Linked DNA regions of Homo sapiens. The protein of the gene in region 3 interacts with the protein of the main gene of each other region in a biochemical or structural test. Each region holds a gene or a part of one and is shown on either strand. Other genes may lie near its edges. The genes, in order: CHM, VPS39, RAB7A and PLEKHM1.

Region 1 (7,027 bases), on a different chromosome or scaffold from region 3:
TAGGTTATAATGTGATCCTACTGTCCCTGATTTGTGTGACATTATAAAAGGGGAAGTGAGGGAAAGGGGACTAAAGAGATGGGGAGGGGCTGTACACTGGGAGGTAGGGATAGGAGCAGCCTGAGAGGCTAGTAAGTTAAGTTCTTCCATTACTCTGGCTTGAACTATATCTGCAGTGGGTAGAAAGGTGAGGCAAGAGCTATATTCCTTGGTTCTTTCCATTTCCCATGAATCTGTGACCTGCCACAGCTGGCTTCCTTTAAGAACATCTCTGAAACCTGGTGAGGTCAGGGACCAGCTGCAGTTGAAGTATGTAAGAACTATGTACTTTACATTGGAGCCATGGCTTCCTGACAGACAATATAGGCCAGATGTTGTGAGAAAAAAAAACAAATAGTTCATTTGTTTGTTTATTTATAGGCAATTATAAGTCTCAACTATTGCTCAAATAAAGTAGACCATCAGAGCTTGGCCATTTGAGAAAATTTAAATATAGGCAACATCACTGCAGCTTAGTTTGCTGCCTATGTACAGCCCCCTTTTTTTTTTTTTGTGAGACAGAGTCTTGCTCTGTCACCCAGGCTGGAGTGCAGTGGCAAAATCTTGGCTCACTGCAACCTCCGCCTCCCTGGTTCAAGTGAGTCTGCTACCTCATCTTCAAAGTAGCTGGGATTACAGGTGCCCACCATAACACCCAGCTAAAATTTTGTATTTTTAGTAGAGACAGGGTTTCGCCATGTTGGCCAGGCTGGTCTCGAACTCCTGACCTCAAGTGATCTACCCACCTCAGCTTCCCAAAGTGCTGGGATTACAGGCAGCCCTAACGTTTTTATGTAGTGTATATTAGGGCTTACCAACTGTCATACACAATTTGGAGTCCTTGGTGGTTGCAGGTTTACCTACCAGAAAAGGAATAAAACAATTTATAGAGTGTTTTCCTTAGTAATATTTCAAAACCACAATTCTACTTGTTACTATTTTTACTGGTCTGTAAGACTATAAAATACTACTTTAAAAAAGAAATTTTCATTTAAAAAGCTTAATGCAATAAAAACACTGTGATCTATTTTGTTTGGAAGTTGACTGACAGCAAGCAATTATTTCCTGCGTGAGACTTTTGAGATTCATCAAGTCAATGGGAAAATTCTAAAACAATTTTCTTCTGGCAAACCGATTCTAAACATGGCATTGCATTGTCTTCATAACCATTCTCATATAGTAGGCATAGTAATACTATTTCCACTTTATATATGGAGAAACGTAGGCTCAGAAGTTAAACAATTTACCAAATATCATCAGTAGGACAGCCAGGATTAAATTAGGTCTGTAGACAATTAGCCTAATACTCTAGTTACTTGACAGACAGAATATTCAAATACCAATGAGCCTATCCACACCTTTCCTTCCATTCTTTCATTTCTTCATTATTGACCTTTCCCAATATGTAAATAATTTACAAACAAATATCACTACTGATACTAAAAAACACTACTGACTTATTCGTAAAAATGTCTAAACACCTTTATATTAGCATTTTCAATGCTTCTCAACATAGAAAGCAAAACAAACCTGTATTCCAAATACAGGCTTCTATCTAGATCATGATACTTTAGTTTTTCTATATGTTTTTATCATTATGTTATGATGCTCTTGTCCATAAAGAAAATAAAATTCAAATAACCAAAGAAAATACATGAGCTGGTTCTGAAAATGTGGCTTTCAAACAAAGATCCAAAGTGGTAAGCAAAATTGTCCTAAGACCATGGAATTATTAACAATGCATAGGATCACTTTCATATCCACAGTTACATTCCTGAGAATCAATTGATTTATAATTTTCATCTGCTAGTCACACAAGTTTGGTATTTAAAATGAGCAAGTCAATGTGCTTTATAAGTGTTGTGTGTTCTTGGAATGTCCTCTATAAGGAAAATCCCCTTTTGGATTTCTATTACCTATTTTGCCTTATAATTGCTGCTGCTTTCTAACATTTCTCAAACAGTCCTTCTATCAAGTAGACTCTGAGACCAGTCAGAATTTCCAAAGTTGGGTATCCAGTTTGGTGTATATCCATTATTCAGAGGACTCCTCTAGGTTTCCAAGGTTTGTGCTTTCCTTGAAAGTCTCCGAGTTAGCCTCTGGTATGGCACTGGATTCTGAAGCCTCTGGCTGTAAACTGTCTCCATCAAGGATAATGTCTTCAGGATTTGGTGGAGGGGGACAGAAATCTTCATTGGGGCAGATTTCCTGGAAAAGTGTTTCAGCCTGGCCAAGGAAGAAAAGATAAAATCGTTTTTGGAAATCGGTTTAAAATGTGTGTGCATTTCTGGCATTAACTAAAAAAAAATAAGTGTTTTATCCTTAAAAATTTGCTTAAACAGGCTACAGTACTTAATCAGAATACATGAACTTCCGTAAGTCTGTTTTCAGAATTCTATGACTTCTCCCTTTAATTCTATACATGTATTGAGGTCCACTCTTCAAGGATGGCAGTACCTCATCAGGTTCATTATCAAGTGTTCAGATTGTTGAGAACTGAAATACATTCATTCTATATATCAATAGAAATACAATTTCCTTAATATTGTTTATATGATTTCTTATAGAGCCTTGATATGGTTTGGTTCTGAGTCCTCACCCAAATCTCATCTCAAATTGTTATCCCCACGTGTTAGGGGGTGACTAGATTATGGGGGCGGCTGTTCCCATGTTGTTCTTGTGATAGTGAGTTCTCAGAATATCTGATGGTTTAAAAGTATTTAGCAGTTCCCCCTTTTCTCTTTCTCCTGCCACCATGTGAGATGTGCCTTGCTTCCCCTTCACCCTCTGCTATGATTGTAACTTTCCTGAGGCCTCCCCAGCCATGTGGCCTTGTGAGTTAAACCTTTTTTGTTTACAAATTACCTAGTCTCAGGTAGTATCTTTATGGCAGTGTAAGAGGCACTAGCATTGAGAATTGGTACCAGGAGTGGGGTACTGCTAAAAGATAACCTGAAAATGTGGAAGTGACTATGGAATTGGGTAACAGGCAGAGGTTAGAACAGTTTGGAGGGCTCAGAAGAAGAGAGGTAAATGTGGGAAAATTTGGAACTTTCTAGAGACTTGTTGAATGGTTTTGGCCAAAATGCTGATAGTGATATGAACAATGATGTCCAGGCTGAGGTGGCCTCAGATGGAGATGAGGAACTTATTGGGAACTGGAGCAAAGGTGACTCTTGCTATGCTTTAGCAAAGAGACTAGTAGCATTTTCTCCCTGCCCTAGAGATCTGTGAAACTTTGAACTTGAGAAAGATGATTTAGGGTATGTGGCAGAAAAAATTTCTAAGCAGCAAAGCATTCAAGAGGTGACCCAGCTGATTCTGAAAGCACTCAGTCATGTGTGTTCACAAAGAGATGCCTTCACATTGGAACTTATGTTTAAAAGGGAAGCAGAGCATAAAGGTTTGGAAAATTTGCAGTCTGACCATGTGGGAGAAAAGAAAAAACCATTTTCTGGGGAGGAATTCAAGCTGGCTATAGCAATTTGCATGAGCAATGATGAGCCAAATGTCAATAGACAAGACAATGGGGAAAATGTCTCCAGGGCATGTCAGAGATCTTCCCTAGGAGGAAAAATGGTTTAGTGGGCTGGGTGGGCCCCACTGCTCTGTGCAGCCCTGGAACATGGTACCCTACATCCCAGCTGCTCCAGCTCCAGCCATGGCTAAAAGGAATAAAGGTACAGCTTGGGCTGTTGCTTCAGAGGGTGCAAGCCCCGAGCGTTGCCAGCTTCCACGTGATGTTGGGCCTGAGGGTGCACAAAAGACAAGAGGTGAGGTTTGGGAGCTTCTGCATAGATTTCAGAGGATGTTAGGAAACGCCTAGATGGCCAGGCAGAAGTCTGCTGCAGGGGTAGAGCCCTCATGGAGAACCTCTGCTAGGGCAGTGCTGAAGGGAAATGTGGGCTTGGAGCCCCCACAAAGAGTCACCACTAGGGAACTGTTTAGTGGAGCTGTAAGAAGAGGGCCACTGTCCTCTAGACCCCAGAATGGTAGCTCCACTGACAGCCTGCACCATGCACCTGGAAAAGTCACAGGCACTCAATGCCAGCCCATGAAAGCAGGCACAGTGCCTATCCCCTGCAGAGCCACAGGGTTGGAACTGCCCAAGGCTGTGGGAGCCTAGCCCTTGTATCAGCATGGCCTGGATGTGAGACATGGAGTCAAAGGAGATTTTGGAGCTTTAAGATTTAATGACTGCCCGGCTGGGTTTTGGACTTGCATGGGGCCTATGGCCCCTTTGTTTTGTCCAATTTCTCCCATTTGGAATGGGGACATTTACCCAATGCCTATACCCCATCGTATCTTGGAAGTAACTAACTTGCTTTTGATTTTACAGGTTCATAGGCAGAAGGGACTTGACTTGTCTCAGATGAGACTTTGGACGTGGACTTTTGAGTTAATGCTGGAATGAGTTTTAAGACTTTGGAGGGCTGTTGGGAAGGGATGATTGGTTTTGAAATGTGAAAAGGACATGAGATTTGGGAAGGGTCGGGGCAGAATGATATGGTTTGGCTCTATGTCCCTACCCAAATCTCATTTGCAATTGTAATCCACAAGTATTAGGGAGGGACTGGTGGGAGATGAATGGATTATGGGGGCACTTTTCCCCATGCTGTCCTCGTGATAGTGACTTCTCACAAGATCTGATGGTTTAAAAGTGTTTGGCAGTTCCCTCTTTGCTTTCTTTGCTCTCCTGCCGCCATGTAAGACATGCCTTGCTTCCCCTTTGCCTTCCACCCTGATTTTACATTTCCTTAGGCCTCCCCAGCTATGAGGAACTGTCAGTCAATTAAACCTCTTTTGTTTATAAATTACAGTCTCAGGTGGTATCTTTATAGCAGTGTGAGGACAGACTAATACAAGCCCACATGTGATACTGGTATAGTCTAATTTAGCATATAGTAATTTTAACAAGTCACTGTTCAAATGAAGAAAACTCTTCACTGTTTGTTCAACTATTTGCTTTTTGATAGAATTTCCATTCCCTGGACTTTAAGGACTATAGCACTTGTTTAAGCTCATGGGTTTTGAAAAGATAGCCTCAGTAAAAATACTGGCTCTACGATTTAGCAGTTATGTGATTTGGGGAATGCTTTCTCAATTTCCGAGCTTTGGCTTCCTTATCTATAAAATATCAGAGATTAAGCCGACATATATGGTAGCTATTTTCATTATTACTAATAATAACATAAGTAAAAATGTCAAGATTTAAGCTGAACTTATTAGTATGACAGGGTAACAGAATAAAAAACCTTCAAGGGTATGTTCTTGGACATGCCAATTACTATAGACAATTTAAGTTTTTAAATACTTAATTGACAAAAAGTATATATATTTAAGGTGTACAAGGTCACTTGATATACACTGTGTAATGATTACCACAATTAAGTTAACACGTCCATCACCACTAATAGTTACCACTGTGTGTGTGTGTGTGTGTGTGTGTGTGTGTGTGTTTGTAGTAAGAATACTTAAAATCTGCTCTCTTGTCAAATTTGAATTGAAGAATCCTGTCATTTATGACAAGATAAATGAACCTGGAGGACATTATGCTAAGTGAAATAAGCCAAGCACAGAAAGACAAATATCACATGATCTCACTTATATGTAGAATCTAAAAAAGTTGAGGGTGGTTGCCAGGGGCTGGGGAGTGTAGAGCTGTTGGTTTAAGGGTATGAACTTTCAGCTATAAGTTCTGGGGATCTAATGTACAGCATGGTAACTATAGCTAACTGCATTTTTTATTATGGCTATTTGGAAATTAAACATTACAGATGCCTGTCTTTGCTCTCCATCCCGGAGACTCACCATACTCCTTTGCTAGAGACACGCAACCCCTGTAGAAGCAGGACCTAGATCAGACAAAGCCATTACCTCATACTTCCGTTCCCCTAATGGTCTTTTTGTCTTACATCTCTGTTTTTACTATCTGTAAAAGTTCTCCCTCCCTTTTATCTTTGGCATGCAAACAATCATCAAATTCTATCAATTTTATCTTCTATCTCTTAACTTCATCTGTTCCTTCCCCACTGACATAGCCCAGACATGCACCATCTTTCAACTAGACAACTACAATAGCCTCAGAATTGGACTGGTCTCCTTGCCTCTAGAGTTCCCCCATATAATCCATCTCCATGCCATCCTCAGATGGGTCAATGGAAAATAAAATTCTGTTTATTCCATTTTTGGCTTAAAATTCTTCAATGACTCCCCATCACCAATAGGATAAAATCCAAGATTCCTACTATAGAAAATAAAACCCTTCAGGCCTACCTTCTCTGATCTTATCATATACCATTTCATCTAGCCTCCATCTCTCAGACTTCTTGATTTACTAATACCTGTTTATTTGTATGAAACAATACACCATGATATTTATCTTTTACATCCTGGACTGGTACCAATGTTATTCTTCACATCCAGAATGTTTCAATTCTACTGTCTTTGATTTAGATGGAGAATTGCTACTCTTCTGTTATACCCCTCTCCGTAAGGTTCTCTGACTCCTAGATTGGGCTCATTTCTCCTTTCTGTTATTTCTAGACTTTGGATATATTAGTACATACGCCACACTACACTGTCATTTGTTTACATGCTTTTCTCCTTTACCTGACAGTGATTCCTCCAGGATGACAAATACTTTTAGTCAACTCTGGATCCTTAGTGCCTTGGCATAAAATAGAATGTCAGTAACATTTAATACAAATATTAAGTATAAATATAATAATTATTATTACTACTAATTCTTTTACTTCTTCTATGCTAGTTCCTCTGTGTTTGACACCTTGTCTCCCTTTTGCCTCCTCCCCATAGAATAGCTTTTACCCTAAACTCCAGTCTCTGTGGCTGGATCCCACACCACATACTTCCATATATCTTGTCATGCACCACCTGCCTCCTAAGATTAGCACCAGTTGCAGGTTGTCACACCACTCTTTCTTGTGTTCTACCTGCTTATGAAACTCCCACCTATAGCCCATCTGCC
Region 2 (7,027 bases), on a different chromosome or scaffold from region 3:
TCCACCAATGTGCTGTTTTCTTAGCCTTATCTTCTAATCATGGGTCACCATCTACTGTTATTTTATATATTTAATTATTATTGCCTCTCTCACTCCACATTAGAATATAAGTTCCCTCAGGGCAGTATCTTTGTTTTCTGCATTGCTATATCTGCAGTACCTAAAACATTTCCTGACTCAATGGGTATTCATTAAATATATATTTAATGAATAATGTTAATATGAATAGTAATAGCTTGCAGTTGTTAAATGCTAATCTGTATTAGGCTTTTATAAAATAAGACTCCATTTTACAGAAGAAAGACCTAAGGCTTAGAAAATTTAAGAAATTTTTCCAAGGTCACATGTCCTGTAAATCATGTCTGCTTCTAGAGCCTGGTTCTCAAACTTGAATGTATATTCAAAGCCTGTAAAAAATGCAGACTTCACATGTATATATGAGTATCTGTATGTCTATATATACATACATACCTATATTTTCCAGAGAAACAATGGAAAGATAAGTCAAAAATTACTAAAATGATGCCCATAGCAGAAGGGAGAAGAGAGGATAAAATGGACAATGATAGAAACTAGACTTTTCGTCGTTTTAGCTTTGGAACTACATGAATGTTTCATAAAAACAAATAAAATTTAATTTAATTTTATTTTATTTTATTTTATTTCATTATTATTTTTTGAGACTGAGTCTCGCTCTGTCGCCCAGGCTGAAGTGCAGTGGTGCAATCTCAGCTCACTGCAACCTCTGCCTCCCAGGTACAAGCCACTGTCGTGCCTCAGCCTCCCGAGTAGTTAGGATTACTGCCACCCACCACCATACCTGGCTTATTTTTGTAGTTTTAGTAGAGACGGGGTTTCGTCATGTTGGCCAGGCTGGTCTCAAACGCCTGACCTGAGGTGATCCGCCCACCTCGGCCTCCCAAAGTGCTGGGATTACAGGCGTGAGCCACTTTGCCCAGCCAACAAGATTAAATTTTAAAATGTAAATTTCAGGGTACCACTTCAAAGCCATTGAATCTGAATCTCCATGTGCAGGGCCCAGGAATGTGCATTTTTAATAAGTCCAGGTGATTCTAATGCAGCTAATTGGGGGCTTATGCCCAGATGAGAAGTACTGTTATTTGCCATGTTACCCAACGAAGGGAAGTGACTACTATCTTACTTATCTTTGTGGTCCCTGCAGTGGCCAGCATTGGGCCAGAAATGGAATTTATTACATGAAGTTGGACTGCATTGCACTGTTGGAAGGAGCTCCATTAGGGTAATTATGAGCAATAGGGCCTAGCCCTCCTTCTCAGGAGGAATTAAGTCCAACCTTGTGGCTCAGGGTTAGGCCGTCAGGAGTTTTTTAGGGCTGATACTGCTTTGCTTATGTGTGCGTTTTGTGTTTGCTTAGTATGTCTCACTTTCTGTTGTGTGTTACTGTATTGAGTCTCAGAAGGCACTGTCCATCCCATGCTGCGCGTGCTCTGCAGGCTTGTCATCCTCTGTGTTGTGCATGCACAGCTTTGTTAAATAACGTGTCCTAGAGAGTGGAGGACCCAACATGGGACAGGTCCTCTGGCTAATGGCACATGTAATCAATCAGGTTGATTTAAAAGTTTACAGAGAATTTAATCCATCGGATTGATTCCCTTTTATGACCAGTAGAATAGACATTTTATTTTTTTAATTAATTTTTTTTTTGGAGGCAGAATTTCACACTTGTCACCCAGGCTGGAGTGCAATGGCGCACAATCTCCACTCACTGCAACCTCCGCCGCCAGTGTTCAAGTGGTTCTCCTGTCTCAGCCTCCCTAGTACCTGGGATTACAGGTGCTCACCAGCACACCTGGCTAATTTTTTTTTTTTTTTTGAGACAGAGTCCTGCCCCGTCACCCAGGCTGGAGTGCAGTGGTACGATCTCAGCTCACTGCAGCCTCTCCCTCCGGGGTTCATGCAGTTCTCTTGCCTCAGTCTCCTGAGTAGCTGGGATTACAGGCACACACACCACCATGCCTGGCTAATTTTTTTTGTATTTTTAGTAGAGATGGGTTTCCACTGTGTTGGCCAGACTGGTCTTGAACTCCTGACCTCAGGTGATCTGCCCGCCTTGGCCTTCCAAAGTGCTGGGATTACAGGCATGAGCCAACCACACTCGGCCTAATTTTTATATTTTTTAGTAGAGACGGGGTTTCACCATGTTGGCCAGGCTAGTCTCAAACTCCTGACCTCCAGTGATTCGCCCACTTCGGCCTCCGTGCCCGGCCCCTAGACATTTGACTTTTTAAAATGTTTTGTCATGTCTTAGTTTGGGTTCACAAGAAAAAAAAAAAGTAAATTAAAAAATCTATTGGCAAGAAACATTTCAATAAAAATGGAAAATAGACTCTTGAATGTCATGTTTAGGAATTTGACTTCATATTTTGGTAGTGTAGCTTCACAGGATTTTTTAAGCCCCAGTGTGACAGCATCAGAGATCTGCTCTAAGATAACTGACAGCAAATGCGAGAGAATGCATGGAGTGAATGAGACCAGTTGAAGGTGTCACAGGGGTCCCCAGAGAGACTCTATAGGAGGAGGCTGTCATGAGGTACCATTACAGGTAGAATTGATAGACCCTGGCCGACTTGGGAGGAAGCTGAGGCTATTAAAAAAGATAAAGAAAAGCAGGAACTGGCAGGGATTTGGGGGACAGAGTGGAGAGAGAAGGATGGGGAAGATGATGAACATTATGTTGGCCTTTTGTTTTGGTTGTAGATTTTTATGTATGTTATGAGTGGATTTTTAAAAAATTTCCACTTCATTTTATTTATATCTGAAATATCAGTGGGTGGCCTAAAAATCAACTTTAATATTGCTAAATTGCTTGATATCATGATATCTATAAAGTTCTAAATATAGTATCTTTTACAAAACAAATATTGCAAAATGAATTCTTTTATTTTTTCATGTTCTGCTGCAGCATAAATCTCCAGCCTTCATTAGAGCTGCTGTTATTTCTGATTTCAACATTTTTTTTGTGTGTGACCTGCCTTTCCTTTAAGACCCCAAATCAAAGAAAATAGAATCACTCTGTTTTTCTGGATGACTAAGAACATCATCCTGGAGAAATACTATTGATCCTTTGGATAAGGAATGTAGGTGCTGACCTGTTTTTATAAATATAACTACTGCCATTCAGACAACCTTTGGCTGACACCCATTTTTTTTGACATGGGTGCCTTAGTAAGTACATCACAGCATGTGGTTGGGAATCAAGACAAATTGGGGTTGGGATCCCAACTCTGCTGCTTGCCACATGTGTGACTCTGGAAAAGTTATATATTCCCTAGGCCTCAACTTCCTCATCTATAAAATGGGGATTTGAAAAAAGGACTTACTTCAAGGGATAGTTGTGAGGATTAGTGAAATAACAGATGCGTTTAGCATTTCCTGGAACACAATACATGCTCAATAAAAGTTATCTATTTGTACCATTATCCAAGATTTTATTTTACAGAGGTCAAGAATCAAGAGAGTTTATGAAAGGAATGAGTGACCTTTATGTTATCAAAAAGCTAAGGAAGTATCTGTACATGCTTACCTTCCTTGAATGATGTAATATGGGTCTGTCAGGGTAATTATTTAAACTCTTTCTGAGCCTCTTTTTACCTAGACCAGTGCCTCCCAAAATGTGGTCCTTGAACCACCAGCATCAGCATCATCTGGGAAGTTGTTAGAAATGAAAATTCCTGGGCCTACTTTTAAACCTACTAAATCAGATGCTCCGGGGTAGAGCCTAGCATTCTGTATTTTAACAAACTCTCAAATAATTGTGATACACTAAAGTTTAAGAACCACTAGCCTAGACCATCTTTTAAAATGTACAATTTGGCTGGGCACAGTCGCTCACCCCTGTAATCCCAACACTTTGGGAAGCTGAAGGGGCATTGCTTGCGGTCAAGAGTTGGAGACCAGATTGGGCAATATTGTGAGCCCTCATCTCTATAAACATTTTTTAAAAAATAGCTGAACGTGGTGGTGCATGCCTGTATTTCTCGCCACTCAGGAGGCTGAGGTGGGAGGATCACTTGAGCTAGGGAGGTGGAGGCTGCAATGAGCCATGATCACACCACTGCTCTCTAGCCTGGGCAACAGAGTAGAACCCTATCTTAAAAAAATAAAAGTTAAAAAAAAGTGTACAATTAAATGGTTTTTAGTACATTCACAGAGTTATGCAACTATCAGCACAATAAATTTTAGAACATATTCATCACTTTCAGAAGAAACTCAGTACCCATTAGTATTTACTTTCTATTTTCCCCCAAGCCCACCAGCCCTGGGCAACCGCTAATCTTTCTACCTCTGTGGATTTGCCTACTCTGGACATTTCATATAAATGGAATCACGTGGCCTTTTGTCTGGCTTCCTTCAGTTAGCATCATGTTTTTAGGTTCATCTGTGTTGTAGCATATATCCATACTTCCTTTCTTTTCATTGTTAGCTAATATTCCGTTATATAGACATGCCACATTTTGTTTATCCGTTCATCAGTTGGTGGACATTTGGTTTGTTTCCATCTTTTAGCTATTACAGATAATACTGCTGTGAACATTTGTGTACAAGTTTTTGTGTAGAATATGTTTTCATTTCTGTTGGGTGTGTAACCAGGAGTGGAATTGCTGGGTCCCAGGGTAACTCTGTTTAGCCTTTTGAGGAGCTGCTAGACTTTTCCAAAGTGGCTCTCCCATTTTACATTCCTGCCAGCAGTGTATGAGGATTCTAATTTCTTTATATTCTCATCAACACTTGTTATTAAATATTTTCTACTAGACTATCTTTTGAGATAATGAATTCTGTAAGCTTATTATGTTACGTCATTTATTTTCCTGAAAGTAAAAGCATTTAAAGGATGCCTCTTAGCTATTATTGCTGAGGTTGGATACCTGGTTTCACATTTGTACTTCCATTTTGTGATTTTATAAACTTTCATCATATTCTTTTTAGCAGAATTTAAAAATATATATCTGAAGATATATATCTTAATAAAAGTATATATAACAAAAAATAAAAATCATAATAATTTAATCTTAAAAATACAAAGCCCTTCTATCTTTTTTATTAGTTTAACATTAAAACAATTGAGCCAGGACATTTTTATCCTCTGATATGTCTAGCCTAGTAATTATTCAATAAATGTGTTTTTAAATGGTTGATTTTCAAACATGAGTATAAACATTTCTTAGCTTTGCAAAACACCTCCTATCAAAAGCAACTCATTTTCTTGACACATTGATTTCTGATTACAAGCCCCAGCTAAAAAAATAGGGTTATACTCAAGCTGATTGACCTTTCTCAAAGCTGGTTTTTTTTTGTTTTTGTTTTTGTTTTGTTTTGTTTTTCCAGAGGAATGGCTTCTTGTGGGAACCAAACAAGGACATCTTCTTCTCTATAGGATTCGGAAGGACGTTGGTAAGTGCACATTGCTCATGCAAAAAAATAAGTTTTAATAGTCAGCTAGTATACAACTGTGAAATCAGTTATTCCTGGACCATTAAAAGAGAGATTGAAGGTTAGAGGGAGCACGGTGGGAAAATGGGGAGAAGACTTGAGAATGCCTAGGGTTTTTCTCCTCCAAATTGTATTGCCCTACCTGCATTTGGGAGGTGAGGATGAATTGCTGGTTTACTTATTACTGAATTACTTATTACTGGTAGTGAGTCTCTAAGAAAAGAGGAGGTGGTTGTTTTCCTCCTCTTTTCTTTGAGACTCACTACCAATAATAAGAAATACTACTAATGGGCATAAGCTTCCTGTATATATGGTGTGGTGGTAGGAAAAAAAATTAGGCAACATCGATTTAAAATATCTTGTTGGCTTATGAGGGGTAGAACAAGAAGAGAGGACCAGGGTTTGCCTTCATGTGCACTTCCCCCTGGCTGCGTGACCGTGAGCAAGTTCTTTCCAACATCAGTTTTCTATAAACTCTCTGCCCCACAAAGTTGTTGGGGTGGATGCAATAATAGGCTCGAAGAAACTGTGAAAACTAAAGTTCTAATCAAATGTGACTGTCAGTAATGTAGAGTAATAACTAAAGTATTTGAAATGTATTCTGTTAAAGAGTGTTTTTTATTGGGGCAGAAAGTACCTCACTGCCCTTCCTTGTTTTCGTTTCTGTGCTCTCTTTATGGAGAATAGATGTGTTTAGGTATTATGCCCTGGAGCCACTCTACAGAAATCTGCAGTTAATTTCATACCCTTCAATATAATATATATTTCTCTGGTAAATAGCTTAAGAGATAGCTTAAGATAAATAGAGCTCTCTTGTGGAACCTGGAGCAAGGGTAACACTGGGGGAAAAAGCACCTTACTAGTGCACTCGGGAAAGAGAAGATATCCTGGTCAGTTTCTGCAGCAGGGTAAGAAAAGAAACCAGAGAACAAAATAGATAATTTATTTCATTTCTAAGTTTTTCAACTGTCCTCTAAATCAGGGTCAGCAAACTTGTTCTGAAAAGGTCCAAAGAATAAATATTTTAGGCTTTGCAGTGTTGTTACTACTTAACTCTGCCTTTGTAACATGAAAGCAGCTGTAGGCAATATGTAATGAATAGGTATGGCTATGTTCCAATAAAACTTTATTTACAAAAACATGCAAAGGCCTCAGTTAGGCCCTGGAGCAGTACATTGTTGATCTTTGTTTTAATGTTTTAAATTTTTAATTCTCATGGCCTGTGAAGTGGCTCATGCCTATAATCCCAGCACTTTGGGAGACTGAAGTAGGAGGAATGATTGAGGCCAGGAGTTCGAGGCCAGCCTGGGCAACATGGCAACACCCTGTCTACAAAAAATTAGCTGGATGTGGTGGCACGTGCTTATAATTCCAGCTGCTCTGGAGGCTGAGGTGAGAGGATCGCTTGAGCCCAGGAGGTTGAGGCTGCAGTGAGCTATGATCACACCATTGCTCTCCAGCCTCAGCAACAGACTTTGTCTCAAAAAAAAATTTCTTTTTTTAGTTCTCGGAGCCAAAATATTTGCGTTCTGTGATATTTGCCTGGTCTATAATT
Region 3 (7,027 bases):
TTAAGGGAGCGCTCTGGCAGAAGGTGCCATGCTCAGGGGAGTAGCAAGAGAAAAACAGATTTTGTGACAACTCCAGGTCAATGTGAAGAGAGGAGTCTTGCCAGAAGAAGCAGCAGTCTGCACTGAGCAATCAGGACAGAAGTTCATGGACATTCTCAATCAGATCATGATCTGGGAGCTCTACCACATCCAGTTCAGATGCTTTCTGTATGTTCCCTATAGTTGCCAATGGTTAACAATGGTCTGGATTTCTAGCTTTTCTCAAACATCTGGCAACCCTCAGCCAGTGTGTGCACGAGGTGAAGTGGCTGGAGCTGAGTGTGAGCTGCCCTCTCAGCCTGTAACATTCCTTCTACCTCCCTATCTTCCATCCACTTTTCGGGACCAATGGCCTCTGGTCTCTTTTTTCTTCCAAAGGTTTAGCAGAGTTTTGTCTCCCAAATGCTGCAGGCCTAGAAAGGAAGCTGTGAATGAATTTTATCACCATCTGTGACAAGTGATCAGAGCACATGGACTATGGTCATTTTAGTGGCACTTTGCTAAAGTAACATGCTTCCAATGAGGAGCAGCATTCTACTTTTGGGTGCAGGAAAACAATGTCACTTAAACACTGAGCACTTGTGTGCCAGTGACTGTTCTAGAATTTGGAGATAAAGCAGGAACTGTTTCTATTCATTAAAAGTTATCTAGGAAAAAAATCATTCCATTCACAATAACTATAAAAGTATAAAACATCTAGGAATACATACTTAAAAAAATAACAGCTTTGGCTGAGCATGGTGGCTCACGCCTGTAATCCCAGCACTTTGGGAGGCTGAAGCAGGTCGACCACCTGAAGTCAGGAGTTCAAGACCAGCCTGGCGAACATGGTGAAACCCCGTCTCTACTAAAAATACAGAAATTAGCCAGGCATGGTGACAAGCACCTATAATCCCAGCTACTCAGGAGGCTGAGGCAGGAGAATTGCTTGAACCCGGGAGGTCAAGGTTGCAGTGAGCCAAGATGGTGCCATTGCACTCCTAATAGCTTTGCTGGGTTTTAACTCACATGCCATGAAGTGTACAATTCAATGGTTTTTAGTATATTCAGAAAGTTGGGCAGCCATCAACATTAAGTTTAAAATACTCTCATCACCCCCCAAAAAACCCTATGCCCATTAGTAGTTCCTTCCCACCCCCATTCTATACCATCCTGGACCCAGCAACCACTCATCTACTTTCTGTCTCAATAGAGTTGCCTATTATTCTGGACACTTAATTTTTAAACATTATTTATTTATTTTAATTTTCCCCATTTCTTCTAGTGGACTGTGATTTCTTTCTTTTTTTTTTTTTGAGGCAGAGTCTTGCTCTGTCGCCCAGGCTGGAGTGCAATGGCATGATCACAGCTCACTGCAGCCTCTAACTCCTGGGCTCACACAATCCTCCAGTCTCAGCCTCCCAAGTAGCTGGAACTATAAGCTCATGCCACCACACCTAGCTAATTTTTAATTTTTAGTAGAGATGAGGCCTTGCTATGTTGCCCAAGATGGTCTCAAACTCCTGGTTTCAAGTGATCCTCCGGCCTCAGCCTCCCAAAGTGCTGTGATTTTAGGCATGAGCCACTGCATCCGGGCTGGACATTTCACTGAAATGGAATCGTACAACATATGGTCTTTTTGCAACTGGCTTCCTTCACTTAGCACCCATGTGGCAGCATGTGTCACTACTTCATTCCTTCTTATAGCTGAATAATATTAGAATGCATGGATAAGCTGCCCTGTTTATTCACTTACCAGTTGATGGACATTTGAGTTGTTCTTACTTTTTGGCTATTACAAATAGTGACATTTTATATTCCCACCAGTACCTAGGAATATGTTTACTGTGAAAGGCAAAGGATCATATTATAAATCAATTATAGCATGGGTGTGCCTGTAGTCCTACCTACTTAGGAGGCTATGGTGGGAAGACTGCTGGAGCCCAGAAGTTGGAGGTTATAGCGAGTGATGATTGCACCACTGCGTATCAGCCTGACTGACAGAGCAAGACCCTGTCTCTAAAAAAAAAAAGAATCAATCAATCTTACTGAAGGAACAGAAACAAGACCTAAAATAGTATCATGGGTGGAATGTTTTGTTTTTTTTTTTGAGATGGAGTTTCGCTCTTGTTGCCCAGGCTGGAGTGCAATGGTGCAATCTCGGCTCACTGCAACCTCCACCTCCCAGGTTCAAGCAATTCTCCTGCCTCAGCATCCTAAGTAGCTGGGATTACAGGTGCCCACCACCACGCCAGCTAATTTTTTGTATTTTTAGTAGAGATGGGGTTTCACAATGTTGGCCAGGCTGGTCTTGAACTCCTGACCTAAGGTGATCCACCCGCCTCAGCCTCCCGAAGTGCTGGGATTACAGGCATGAGCCACCGCACTCGGCTGGGCAGAATGTTTGTGTTCCTCCAAAATTCCTGTGTTGAAGCACTAACCCTTCAGGTGGCTGTATTTGGAGTAAGGAAGGAATGAAGGTTAAATGAGGTTGCAGGATGGGGACCTGATCTGAGAATTCGTGTCCTTATAAGAAGAGGTGACACCAGAGACACCTTGCTCATGTGTCCTCTCTCTGTGCACACAGCAGAAAGGGCATGGGAGGGACACAGTGAGAAGATAGCCCAGAAAAGCACCCTCACCAGAAACATGTGCCAGCACCTTGCTCATGGACTTCCAGCCTCCAGAACTGTGAGAAAACAAAATGTCTGTTGTTGGACCCTCCCAGGCTGTGGGGTTTTGTTAACGCAGCCTGAGCAGACTAATGCAACAGCCACAACAAAACTGCAATCAATGAGGAAAAAACAGTGGGCTTGAAGAAAAAAATTCCAATCAAAATCTCAACAGAGTTTTATTTGGGGTGTGGAAGGTAAGAGAGGAAAATGGTGGAAACAAAATTATTAAAAAAGAAATGTGGCAGGCCGGGTGCGGTGGCTCATGCCTGTAACCCCAGCACTTTGGGAGGCTGAGGCGGGCGGTTCACAATGTGAGTTCCAGACCAGCCTGGCCAACATGGTGAAACCCTATCTTTACTAAAAAATTACCAAAATTAGCTGGGCATGGTGGCGGATGCCTGTAATCCCAGCTACTCAGGAGGCTGAGGCAGGAGAACCGCTTGAACCTGGGAGGCGGAGGTTGCAGTGAGCCGAGATCACGCCATTGCATTCCAGCCTGGGGAACAGAGCAAGACTCCGTCTCAAAAAAAAAAAAAAAAAAAAAAAAAAAAAAGACTGTGGCAAGAGGAAACTTGCCTCATCAGGCAGTCAAATCAACACAGTCCAGATAAGGGAACATGGCATGGACATCACCAGAACAGACTGGAGAGACCAGAAACAGATCCCAGCACATACGAGCATTTAGCACAGGCCACGGTCTATTCAGGGAGGGAAACGGCTTGTGTAACATAGCTGAATGATTTCAAACAACTGGCTGAGCTCTCTTGAGAGGAAAGGCAAGTCTCTCTTTTCTGCCATAAGCCAAAACAAATTCCAGCTGAATTACAGAAAAATCTGAGGTAGACACAGGAAACATAGAAACTTAAAATGACATAACCAAATAAAAAATTACTTTTTCCCTATGTTCAAAGGACTTAAAAAGACCACAGAGTTGGAAAAGTCACTTAAGATGCAAGTAGAGTTAACTTCAATTCACCAACAGCTCATGAGAACTGAGAGAGGCCCAACCATGTGCTGTGTGCCGGCTGTGTGCAGCAGAGAAAATCCAAATGGCTAAGCCCCAGGGAGGGGAACTCAGAGGGACCAGTAGTCACGATGGTGGCAATTTACACACCCAAAGATCGGCAATGTCAGCAGTGACAGGTGACACCTATTGCTTGCTGGCAAGGAGGTAGAAGAAAGCAAGCCCACATTGCTGAAATGTTATTCCCCTTGGGGAAAGCAACCTGGCACCCTGACTTACAATAAGATACACCCTCCGATTTAACAATCTAACTTCTTAAGGGCTAGCTCTAAAAATAAAAGCATAAAGACAACAGGGACAGTAGTGATGGAAGAGAAAAACTCAGACAGTGATGCCAGGCAACAGGGAACAGGTGGGAAACACTTTCCTACACATATTTGGATTTCCATTCCCTTATATGAACATTAAGAAAAACACAAACATTATTATTTGGGGGTAAGCGTGGCCAAGTCTGCATCTTGGTCTGCTCCTTACCACTTGAGGGCTCTCCTGGCATTCTGGGTGGAACAATTTCCTCATTGAGTAGATCTGTCCCTTTCATTCTGGAACACTTAGTGCAGACCCCACCCATGCCAGAATTTCCCTGGTCCTTGGAGCAACCATTACAAACAACTCTTTGTCCTGCTGAAAGCCATTACCTTCATTCAGCCGGCTTCCTGGAGTCAGCAGAATCTGCCTTGCCCTTCACAGCCACCATGTGCTTCAAGTGTTCTATGCATCCTCCCAAACCTGCCACACCTCTGACCACCCCCAGACACTGTCTGATGAGGCCTCGTGACCTGCCTTAATCACCACTGCCCCTAACAGAGCTGTACATCAAAACAGACTTTCAACTCGCATGAGTGGTTGTATCTAATCACAGAAACAGTAAATAAGAAATTCTAGGTATTATATTCCTTGAATAGTTTTCCTACATCTTCTTCCTTCTTTGTGTTGTTTACTTAACTGTTCCTAAGGAAAAAAGTTACCAGTCAGTATGTGAGAGCTGGAAGAGTCTGTCTCATTTAATCTTCATAATCACCCTGCAAAAGCAGGTATTCCCATTTTTCAGGTGAGGGGGTAGAAGTTCAGATATAATTTTTTTTATTTTAATTTTTAATTTTTTTTAGACAGAGTCCCACTCTGTCACCCAGGATGGAGTACAGTGGCACGATCTTGGCTCACTGCAACCTCTGCCGCCTGGGTTCAAGCAATTCTCCTGCCTCAGCCTCCCGAGTAGCTGGGATTACTGGCGACCACCACCAGGTCTGGCTAATTTTTTTGTATTTTTTAGTGGAGAGGGGGTTTCACCATGTTGGCCAGGCTGGTCTCGAACTCCTGACCTCAAGTGATCAGCCCGCCTTGGCCTCCCAAAGTGCTAGGATTACAGGCATGAGCCACAGTGCCCGGCCATAATTTTTTTTTAAGCCCAAACTAGATATAACGATTGGTACGCAGCAGAGCTGGGATTCATATTCAAGTTTATTTCCTCCTTAAATAGAAGCAGCAATCTGTTCGGGGTCTCCCAGTGACCTGATCTCCTAATCACAGCAAAGAAAATAAGAACAAGCCTAGTAAAAGAAGGGCAGCCTCAGACTTCACAGCCTCTGCATCTTTTATATTATTCCCCCCAAAGTGGGATTTCTGGAAGCTTAAGCAGAACATGTCATAACCTTCCCAGATGAACACATAGGGTATTCTGGCTATACAGAAAAGAGTGGGTTAGGGAAGAAGATTAAGGGCAGGAGGCCAGGCAGGGACTGGGTCAGTGGTCAGGCATCACCAGAGTGGGCTGGTCAGCTGTGGGAGACCCACCTGCTTAAGTGCATTCCGTGCAATCGTCTGGAACGCCTGCTCCACGTTGATGGCCTCCTTGGCACTGGTCTCAAAGTAGGGAATGTTGTTTTTGCTGTAGCACCAGGCCTGTGCCCGCTTTGTGGCCACCTGAAAGAAGAAGCAGGGTGCACATAGGCTCATGACAGAAGCAGCCAGCACTGACTCCATCCTCCCCAGGAAGTGTCATGGCCCCTCGTCTACAGGTAGTACAGGTGAGGACACAGACATGGGGAAAGAGGGTGTTGGAGGAGACCTGCAGACCCGTCCAAACTTGTCCTGCTAGCTATGCTCAGGATAGCTAGGATTCAGCTAGAGAGCTCAAAGCCTGTCTCGGTCTACAGCTCATACCTTCTGACCCTCAGTTATACTTAAAAGCCATTTGTGAATGGAGTAAGAAGCCAGTCCGGGAAGAAATGAAGAGTGTTTACTGGGACCTCAGAGATCCCAGGACAGGAAATGCCCAGCAGCTTGGTCTTAAGGTTTATAGTCCCTTCACCATTACTGCTAGTGTGATGTCACCTATGCCACTCACACATTCTCATTCCTTCCCCAACCCCTAGCCCATTTTCAGCCAAGAGATAAGGACTAAGTCACTTAAGAAAAGATCTGTGGTCAGAAATAAACCTAGTTGTAATTAATCAAAGAGTCTATGTTTCCAACAGAAATGGTATTTGAAACTACAGTACAGCAATTTTACTCAAAGCCCAAAGCAATATTCTGCACACATGGAGATCCAGGCATGGCCTGGAGGTACTGGGAGGGCACTACTGAGAATGACAAAACCGAATTCCCTCCTTCAAAGTGCAGAAAGGGAAGTGAAGCTGAGACAGCCAAGACAATGGCCCAAAGTCACAGCCAGCTGGGGGCAGGATGGGGACTTAACCCAGGTCACCTGGGTCCCGGTCCTTAAAGGCAGTTGGCCTGAAGGGCTGGCATATGGTAATGAAGACTCCCACCAGCACCTCCTAGAGCCATGTGAGCTTAGCAGAGAACCCTCCAAATTCACAAGGCCCCTGGGGAGCAGGTGTCTGTGACAATATCTATCATCGTTGGTACTTACTTGTCTGTTTTCGAGGTCAATCTTGTTTCCCAACACAACAAATGGGAAGTTTTCAGGATCTCGGGGACTGGCCTGGATGAGAAACTCATCTCTCCAGCTATCTAGGGTTTTGAATGTGTTGGGGGCAGTCACATCAAATACCAGAACGCAGCAGTCTGCACCTCTGTAGAAGGCCACACCGAGAGACTGGAACCGTTCCTGTCCTGCTGTGTCCCATATCTGTGAGAGACAAAACATTCATTCCTTGGGAGAATGCTAGGCAGAGCACCAGGAGCATGTATGCAAGGGGTGCCAGAAGAAATAGGCTAGATTGTGGGGCCACCCACAAAGACAAATGACACCAGACTTCAGGAAGCAAATTTCAGCACCAGAGTATCTGAAACAATCCTCACAAATATTGTGATTAAGTATGTGTCTGTCTATAAGCGAGTGACA
Region 4 (7,027 bases), on a different chromosome or scaffold from region 3:
GTGTAGGAAAAAACCAAGTTGTGGAACAATATATCCAGCATTCAACACAGCAGCCAAGAGCCCCGTGTGTCCCCTTTAAATGCAAATGAATTTAAATAGAAAATTCAGTTGCTTAACCACACTAGCCACACTTTAAGCACCTGGTAGCACTACATGGCTCGCAGCTATGGCACTGGACACACAGATCTAGGACATTTTCATCATCACAGAAAGTTCTATTGGACAGCACTGAATAGCACGAGCCCATTTTTATAATTAAAAAAAAGGGTGTACACTTATAAAAGCAGCAGAAATATTTGGAAGGAAACCATGCCCCTGCTCTGAAAGAACAGGACGGTAGAGCAAGAAGAAAATGAAGCAGGCTGGGACTCCCTGAGCAGCGCAGTGAGTAGCCAGCCTGCCGCCCATCAGTGGGAGGTGGCAGGAGAGGGACGGGTGAGCAGGGCCCACTGCCTATGAGCAGGGCACTGGCCCCAGCCGGGGCTGGGGAGGAGCAGAAGCTGTAGGGCAAGCCTGATCTGTGGCCTCATCCCTAGGGGAAGGATGGGGGCATTTGCGGGGAGGCAGAAGGGTGGGGAGCCTAAATCAGGAACCAGCAGGAGGTGGAGTGAGGCTGGCAGGCTGGGGGTGGCAGCAGAGCAAATCGGCACCTGCGCAGAAGCAGCCTTGGGAGTCAAGGCCTTTCTCCATGGGGATAGCCACCAGGTACTGCAGCAGGAAGCCATTCTCCCGGGTGGCAAATTTCAGCACCTCCTGACAGTTTTCATCCAGGCTCCCGCCCAGGGTCACCGCCTCCTCGGCTGTCTCCAAGTAGGATGCCAGGACTTTGCGGACCAGATCCCTCCACAGGGCGGCTTCCTCGGCGTTTCCGGCCTGCAGCTTCAGGACAGCCTTGGCCGTGATGATTTTGAAGAAGGATGGGCCCCCAAGGCTGGTGTCTGGCAGGATGTCCCGGATGGTCTCCACGCCGTGGCTGTCACTCAGCATCTTCTCATTGTTCCTGATGCGGAAACATTTCAGAGCCTCCAAGGACAGAGAAAATATATAGGGCATCCAGGTCCTGTCCATGTACAAGTACAGCAGGGACTCCTTGATGGCATCTGGCTCTGGAACCTGGGCGGACGACCAGTCAAACTGTGTGCCCTGGAGGGCCGCGGGCTCCGAGAGCAGGTCTGAGGGAGAGAGGCAGCCCTGGGGCGCCTCGGGGGGTTCCTCAGGCTGGTCTGGGTACTGCACGTTCACCCACTCATCCTCCTGCTGAGGCCGGACCTTCTGCAGGGCCTCCCGCACCCGGTCCAGCCAGTCCTCAGCTTCGTCCTGGGAGGAGGCGCGCAGGGCCAGCTTCTTGCCAGAGAAGACCAGCTCAAAGCGCCCATCACTATGGGCTGGCCCCACAGACTCACAGCGAAGCAGCGAGCAGTTCTCCACACAGGTGTGCTCCTCGTTGCTCAGGTAGAGGCGGAACTCCAGCGGGGAGAGCTCGCAGAAGAGCTCCTTCCAGATGCCCATTGCCCCCCGCCGCTCCACGGTGCCCAGCTTCATGAGACCCCGGAATGGGTTGGACAGTCCTGGAGGCAGAGGCAAAAAGGGGCACATTAGTTGGCGGGCCTGTCTCTGTCCTGCCCAAGGCAGCCTCTGCTGCCTGATGCCCTGCAGTGCATGTGGCCAGTGACTGTCCCCAGAACACAGGCCAGCCACGGGGCACTATCACATGGGACCCTGAAAGCTGGATGGGAACATCCCCATTCTCACCGTCCACTGCTGCTCTTGCGTCCTGTATTTCACTGAGAAAATAAGAGCACCCAAAAGATCCCCTCCACACGCCCTGTTCCCTACACCCACGCCTTCCCTCCTGCTGCCAGGGATGAACCAAGTGTGCTTCTTTCTGCGTGAGGCCAAACCCTCCATTTGTGCAGGAGGTCTCTCCCTTGGCCAACTACTCAAGGACAAGGAGCAGTCCTCTCCTCTGTCACTGCTTTCTTCCTTCTCTATGGGGTGACTCCCATCGGCACACATGCACGCTGTCATTTCTCCCATCTTTAGAAACACCTCTCGTCTCCATGCACTTCCCTAATGACCACCATATTTCTCAGGCCCCTTTACAGAAAACCTGTTTGAAGAGGCATCAAAACTGTTCATCTTGGCCGGAAGCGGTGGCTCATGCCTGTAATCCCAGCACTTCGGGAGGCTGAGGTGGGTGGATCACTTGAGGTCAGGAGTTTGAGACCAGCTTGGTGAACACGGTGAAACCCCGTCTCTACTAAAAATACAAAAATTAGCCAGGTGTGGTGAGCACCTGTAATCCCAGCTACTAGGGAGGCTGAGGCAGGAGAATGGCTTGAACCGGGAAGGCAGGGGATTGCAGTGAGCTGAGGTCACTCCACTGCACTTCAGCCTGGGTGACAGAGGAGTGAGACTCCGTCTCAACAAAACAAAAAACCTCTTGGTCTCTAGTTTCCCTGCTCCCATTCCTTCTCGAACCTGCTCCAAGTAGGCTTCTCTCCCCCCATTCTACTGACACTGTTTCTGAGATGGTCAATGCCCTCCTCGTTGCCAAACCCCAAGGCCACTCCTCAGCCCTCGCCCCCACCCTTCTATCTCTCTGGCTCGGTCCTCCCTGTGGCCTCTCACGTTAGAGTGCCCAGATGTCAGTCCTGGGTCCTTGTCTCCTCTCTGTAGATGCCACTTTCTCACCACTCTACCTGCTCTCAGGCTTTAGCTCCCAATTTTTATCGCCAGCCTGGACCTTGTTCTTGAAATCCACATTCATATATCCACCTGTGCCATACATGTCCACTAGGATCTCAGCTGACATGTCCAGGATGAATTCCTGCTGCCAGCCTGCTTCCTCCTGAATGGTCCTCATCTCACCAAATAGCAAAATTCATCCTTCCAGATGCCTGGGCTAAAAATCTTGGTGTTACCCCAGGTTTTCTTTCTTTCGCAGCCTACATCAGCAAATCCCATTGGCTCTGCCTTCCACACATCCGGAATCCCCGCCTCTCCCCAGCTGCACCCCACCCACTGTCATCTCTGGCCTGGCTTGTGATGACAACCTCCTAACTGGTCTTTCTCCCCTTCTCCCCTGTAGTCCCTCAGCGTAGGAGCCATGATGACCCATTTAAAGGGAAGTCAGAGCATGTCCCTCTGCCCCAAAACTCCACAGTGGCGGCCATCTCCCTTAGCTGAAGCCAAAGTGCTTCCAGTGGCCCACAGGCCTCGTCAGATTGACCTCATCGCTCACTGCCACGCCCCCATCTCCTCTCTCCTGCCACTCTGGTCTCCACTGTCCCTGGATGTGTCAAGCGCAGCCCCAGCGCAGGGTCTTTGCATTTGTTCTCCTTGCTTGAAACACGTACATTGCCTCATGACTCCTTCCCTCTCTCCCCTTGCATCTCCTCAAACATCCCCTTATTGGTGAGGGCTTTTCTGGCCATCCTATATGCAGTGGTCCACTCTCTACCTCTGTAGACAGGTAGAGATTTACTGTCCTCCATAGCACTTATGACCACCTGACCACACACTATGCTTACTTGTTAATTTTATTTCCCGTCTCCTCTACTAGAATCTAAATCCCATGAAGACAGGGACACTGCTTTGCTGCCTGCTATGTCTCCAGCACTTAGAACAGTGCCTGGCACATCACAGAGCCTCAATAATATTTGCTGAATGAATGAGCAGGTGAGTGCCTATGTATCACATGTTGCCCACAGCTCCCTGCTGCCTGGGGTGTGACAACAACCAGGGTGTCCAAAGGACACACAATTCTCTCTCCGCCAGCCTGGAATAGCCTTGGAGATTTCACACTATTCTATGGGGGTTCCCTGCCCCTCAAGAAACCTGATGGCCTAGACCTGAAGCACAGCTTCGCTGGCAGGTTAGAGACCACAGCCATCACACGGGCCAACAGACAAACCTAACAGAAGCCAGCCCGGAGACCGGGCTCTACCCACACAACCCATGCCAGGGCTACCCACAGCAAGGCCCCCTGAGCTGGGCAGGATTCTCTGCTGGGTCACTGCAGACAGAAAATGAGGAGAGAAAGAGACCAATTCTAGAGCGTACTTTTTTTGTTTGTTTTGAAGAGGAAACCCATCATGAAGGTTACTGAAAAATTTGGTTATGGTTATTTAAGGCTTTCTGGAATTTCAGTGTGTGGAGATCAAGCTGACCTTGCTGTAAAAAGCACTGGGGAGGTCGGGCATAGTGGCTCACACCTGTAATCCCAGCACTTTTGGAGGCCAAGGTGGGTGGATCACATGAGGCCAAGAGTTCAGACCAGTGTGGCCAACATGGCAAAATCCTATGTCCACTGGAAATACAAGAATCACCTGGGTGTGGCAGTGCATGTCTGTAATCCCAGCTCCTGGAGAGACTGAGGCACTTGAGCTGGGAGGCAAAGGCTGCAGTGAGCTGAGATTATACCACTGTACTCCAGCCTGGGTGACAGAGCAAGACTCTGCCTCAGAAAAAAAAAAAAAAAAAAAAAGAAGCACTGGAGGACATTAAACAAATAGCAGATCCTCCAGCCTGGCCAACATAGCAAAACACCATCTTTATTAAAAATGCAAAAATTGGCCAGGCGCAGTGGCTCATGCCTGTAATCCCAGCACTTTAGGAGGCCGAGGCGGGGTGGATCACCGGAGGTCGGGAGTTGGAGACCAGCCTAACCAATTTCGAGAAACCCCGTCTCTACTAATACAAAATGAGCCAGGCATGGTGGCTCATGCCTGTAATCCCAACTACTCGGGTGGCTAAAGCAGAAGAATTGCTTGAACACGGGAGGCGGAGGTTGTGGTGAGCTGAGATCACATGATTGCACTCCAGCCTGGGCAACAAAAGGGAAACTCCACCTCAAAAAAAAAAAAAAATTAGCCAGGTGTGGTGGCAGGTACCTGTAATCCCAGCTATTTGGGAGGCTGAGACAGGAGAATTGCTTGAACCCAGGAGGCTGAGGTTGCAGTGAGCAGAGATCATGCCACTGCACTCCAGCCTGGGCAACAAAGGGAGACTCCATCTCAAAACAAACAAACAAACAAAACAAATAGCAGATTTGATCAAGCCACCCAGAGCTGTTACATAAACCAACTACTGAGGGTAAACACGTTTGGAAGGACCATTTAAAACACCTGGGGCTTCATGGGGCCGGATGTGCTCTGAGCTACAGGTGGAATCAAGAGTTTTCTATAATCATAAATTGCATAGTTTTCAGGGAAAATATTTTCCTATTTGACTGGTGAAACAGTATTTTTGTCCTCTGTAGGCAGTTTTGAGACAATATACTACTTTTCCTGAAATGCTTCCCTGAATGAACATGATTATGATGGCATTCTGGAATGAGGTTTTATAACACTTGTGGGAACACACTACCCCTTTAGCAATGGAAAACAGAACTTCACAGCTGCCTTCTGAAAGGCCTGGTCCCTGCAGATGGGACCCACCCGGGACCCTCCTGGTAACCTACCCATCTGTCTCCGGTGTACCACCCGGAAGCTCTTATGCCCCTGGGATGGGGCTGCCTGGGCTTGCCTTCTTCCTGGGGAAGGTACACACGCTTGGTCTAACGCCCCCAGGGAGCAGTTTTTTCTTGGTTCTTGAGAAAAATGCCTGTGGAGACCAGGCCTTGACCCTGGAGTCCCCCTGTAAGAAGCTATTGGGTGGTCTGAAGCACTCTCCAGGGGTTGCTCCCGGGAAGGCCGGTAGAAGTCATCCTCTGAGATCCAGCTCTTGTTTTTCTGTTGGGAAAGAAGACAACAGTTGTTTGTTTTAAAGTTTTTTTGTTTTGAGACGGAGTCTCGCTCTGTTGCCCAGGCTGGAGTGCAATCGCGCAACCTCGGCTCACTGCAACCTCTGACTCCTGGGTTCAAGCGATTCTCCTGCCCCAGTCTCCTGAGTAGCTGGGATTACAGGCGCCCACCACCATGCCCAGCTAATTTTTGTATTTTTAGTAGAGGCGGGGTTTCACCATGTTGGCCAGGCTGGTCTAGAACTCCTGACTTCAGGTGAGCCACCCACCTCGGCCTCCCAAAGTGTTGGGATTACAGGTGTGAGTCACTGTGCCCAGCCTGAAGTTTTTTTTTTTTTTAAGTCTTTATCTAGATATGGCTCTTATATCATAAAATTAACCCACTTAAAGTATGTAATTCGGCCAGCCATGGTGGCTCACACCTGTAATCCCAGCACTTTGGGAGGCTGAGGTGAGAGGATCACCTGAGCCCAGGAGTTTGAGACCAACCTGGGCAACACAGTGAGAACCCATCTCTACAAAAAATAACTAGCTGGGTGTGATGGCACACACCTGTAGTCTCAGCTACTGAGGAGGCTGAAGCGGGAGAATCGCTTGAGCCAGGGAGGTCAAGGCTGCAGTGAGCCGTGATCACGCCACTGCCCTCCAGCCTGGTTGCAGCCTAGGCAACAGAATGAGACCCCATCTCTAAAAAAATAAATAAATAAAGTGTCCAATTCAAACATTTTGGCTTAGTCAGAGTTGGGCAATCGTCACCACCATCTAAGTTTAGCAAATTTTCCTCACCCAAAAAGGAAACCCCGTACCCATTAGCCGTCATCCCCATTTCCCCTGGCCACTCTCAGCTCTAGGCACCTACTTACCTACTTTCAGTCCCTACACACCTGCCTGTTCTGGACATCTCATATAGATGGAACCATACGACACGTGACCTTTTGTGCCTGCTTCTTTCTCTTAGTGGGAGGTTTTCCAGGTGCATCCATGTTATATAAGCATGTTTAAGTGTTCATTCCTTTTTATTGCCAAATAATATTCCATTGTCTCGATCCACCACATTTGGCTTATCCACTCCTCGGCTGATGGACATTTGGGTTGTTTCTACTTTTTGTCAATTATGAATAGTGCTGCTATGATCACTTATACACAAGTTTTTGTGTAGACATGTTTCATTGTCTTGGGTATATACTTAGGAGTAGACTTGCTGGGTCATGTGTAACTCTATGTTTCCCTTCTTGAGGAACTACCAAGCTGTTTTCCAAAGTGGCCGCACCATTTTATATT

The links.
Region 1: the proteins of RAB7A (region 3) and CHM are reported together in a solved structure, tested with the Homo sapiens proteins (2 studies listed by BioGRID, with this or other methods).
Region 2: the proteins of RAB7A (region 3) and VPS39 form a complex in vitro, tested with the Homo sapiens proteins (one study listed by BioGRID).
Region 4: the proteins of RAB7A (region 3) and PLEKHM1 form a complex in vitro, tested with the Homo sapiens proteins (one study listed by BioGRID).

Annotation. Positions count from the first base shown.
Region 1 is NC_000023.11:85,862,557-85,869,583, forward strand, and holds part of CHM (rab proteins geranylgeranyltransferase component A 1), read right to left. Parts: intron 2,266-7,027; coding exon 2,074-2,265; 3' UTR 1-2,073. UniProt on the Homo sapiens protein: Substrate-binding subunit of the Rab geranylgeranyltransferase (GGTase) complex.
Region 2 is NC_000015.10:42,198,302-42,205,328, reverse strand, and holds part of VPS39 (vam6/Vps39-like protein), read left to right. Parts: intron 1-5,367; coding exon 5,368-5,433; intron 5,434-5,662; exon of another isoform or gene 5,663-5,759; intron 5,760-7,027. UniProt on the Homo sapiens protein: Regulator of TGF-beta/activin signaling, inhibiting SMAD3- and activating SMAD2-dependent transcription.
Region 3 is NC_000003.12:128,806,156-128,813,182, reverse strand, and holds part of RAB7A (ras-related protein Rab-7a), read right to left. Parts: intron 6,812-7,027; coding exon 6,593-6,811; intron 5,641-6,592; coding exon 5,512-5,640; intron 1-5,511.
Region 4 is NC_000017.11:45,452,705-45,459,731, forward strand, and holds part of PLEKHM1 (pleckstrin homology domain-containing family M member 1), read right to left. Parts: intron 5,736-7,027; coding exon 5,465-5,735; intron 2,177-5,464; exon of another isoform or gene 2,127-2,176; coding exon of another isoform or gene 2,111-2,126; intron 1,569-2,110; coding exon 651-1,568; coding exon of another isoform or gene 586-650; exon of another isoform or gene 230-585; intron 1-229. UniProt on the Homo sapiens protein: Acts as a multivalent adapter protein that regulates Rab7-dependent and HOPS complex-dependent fusion events in the endolysosomal system and couples autophagic and the endocytic trafficking pathways.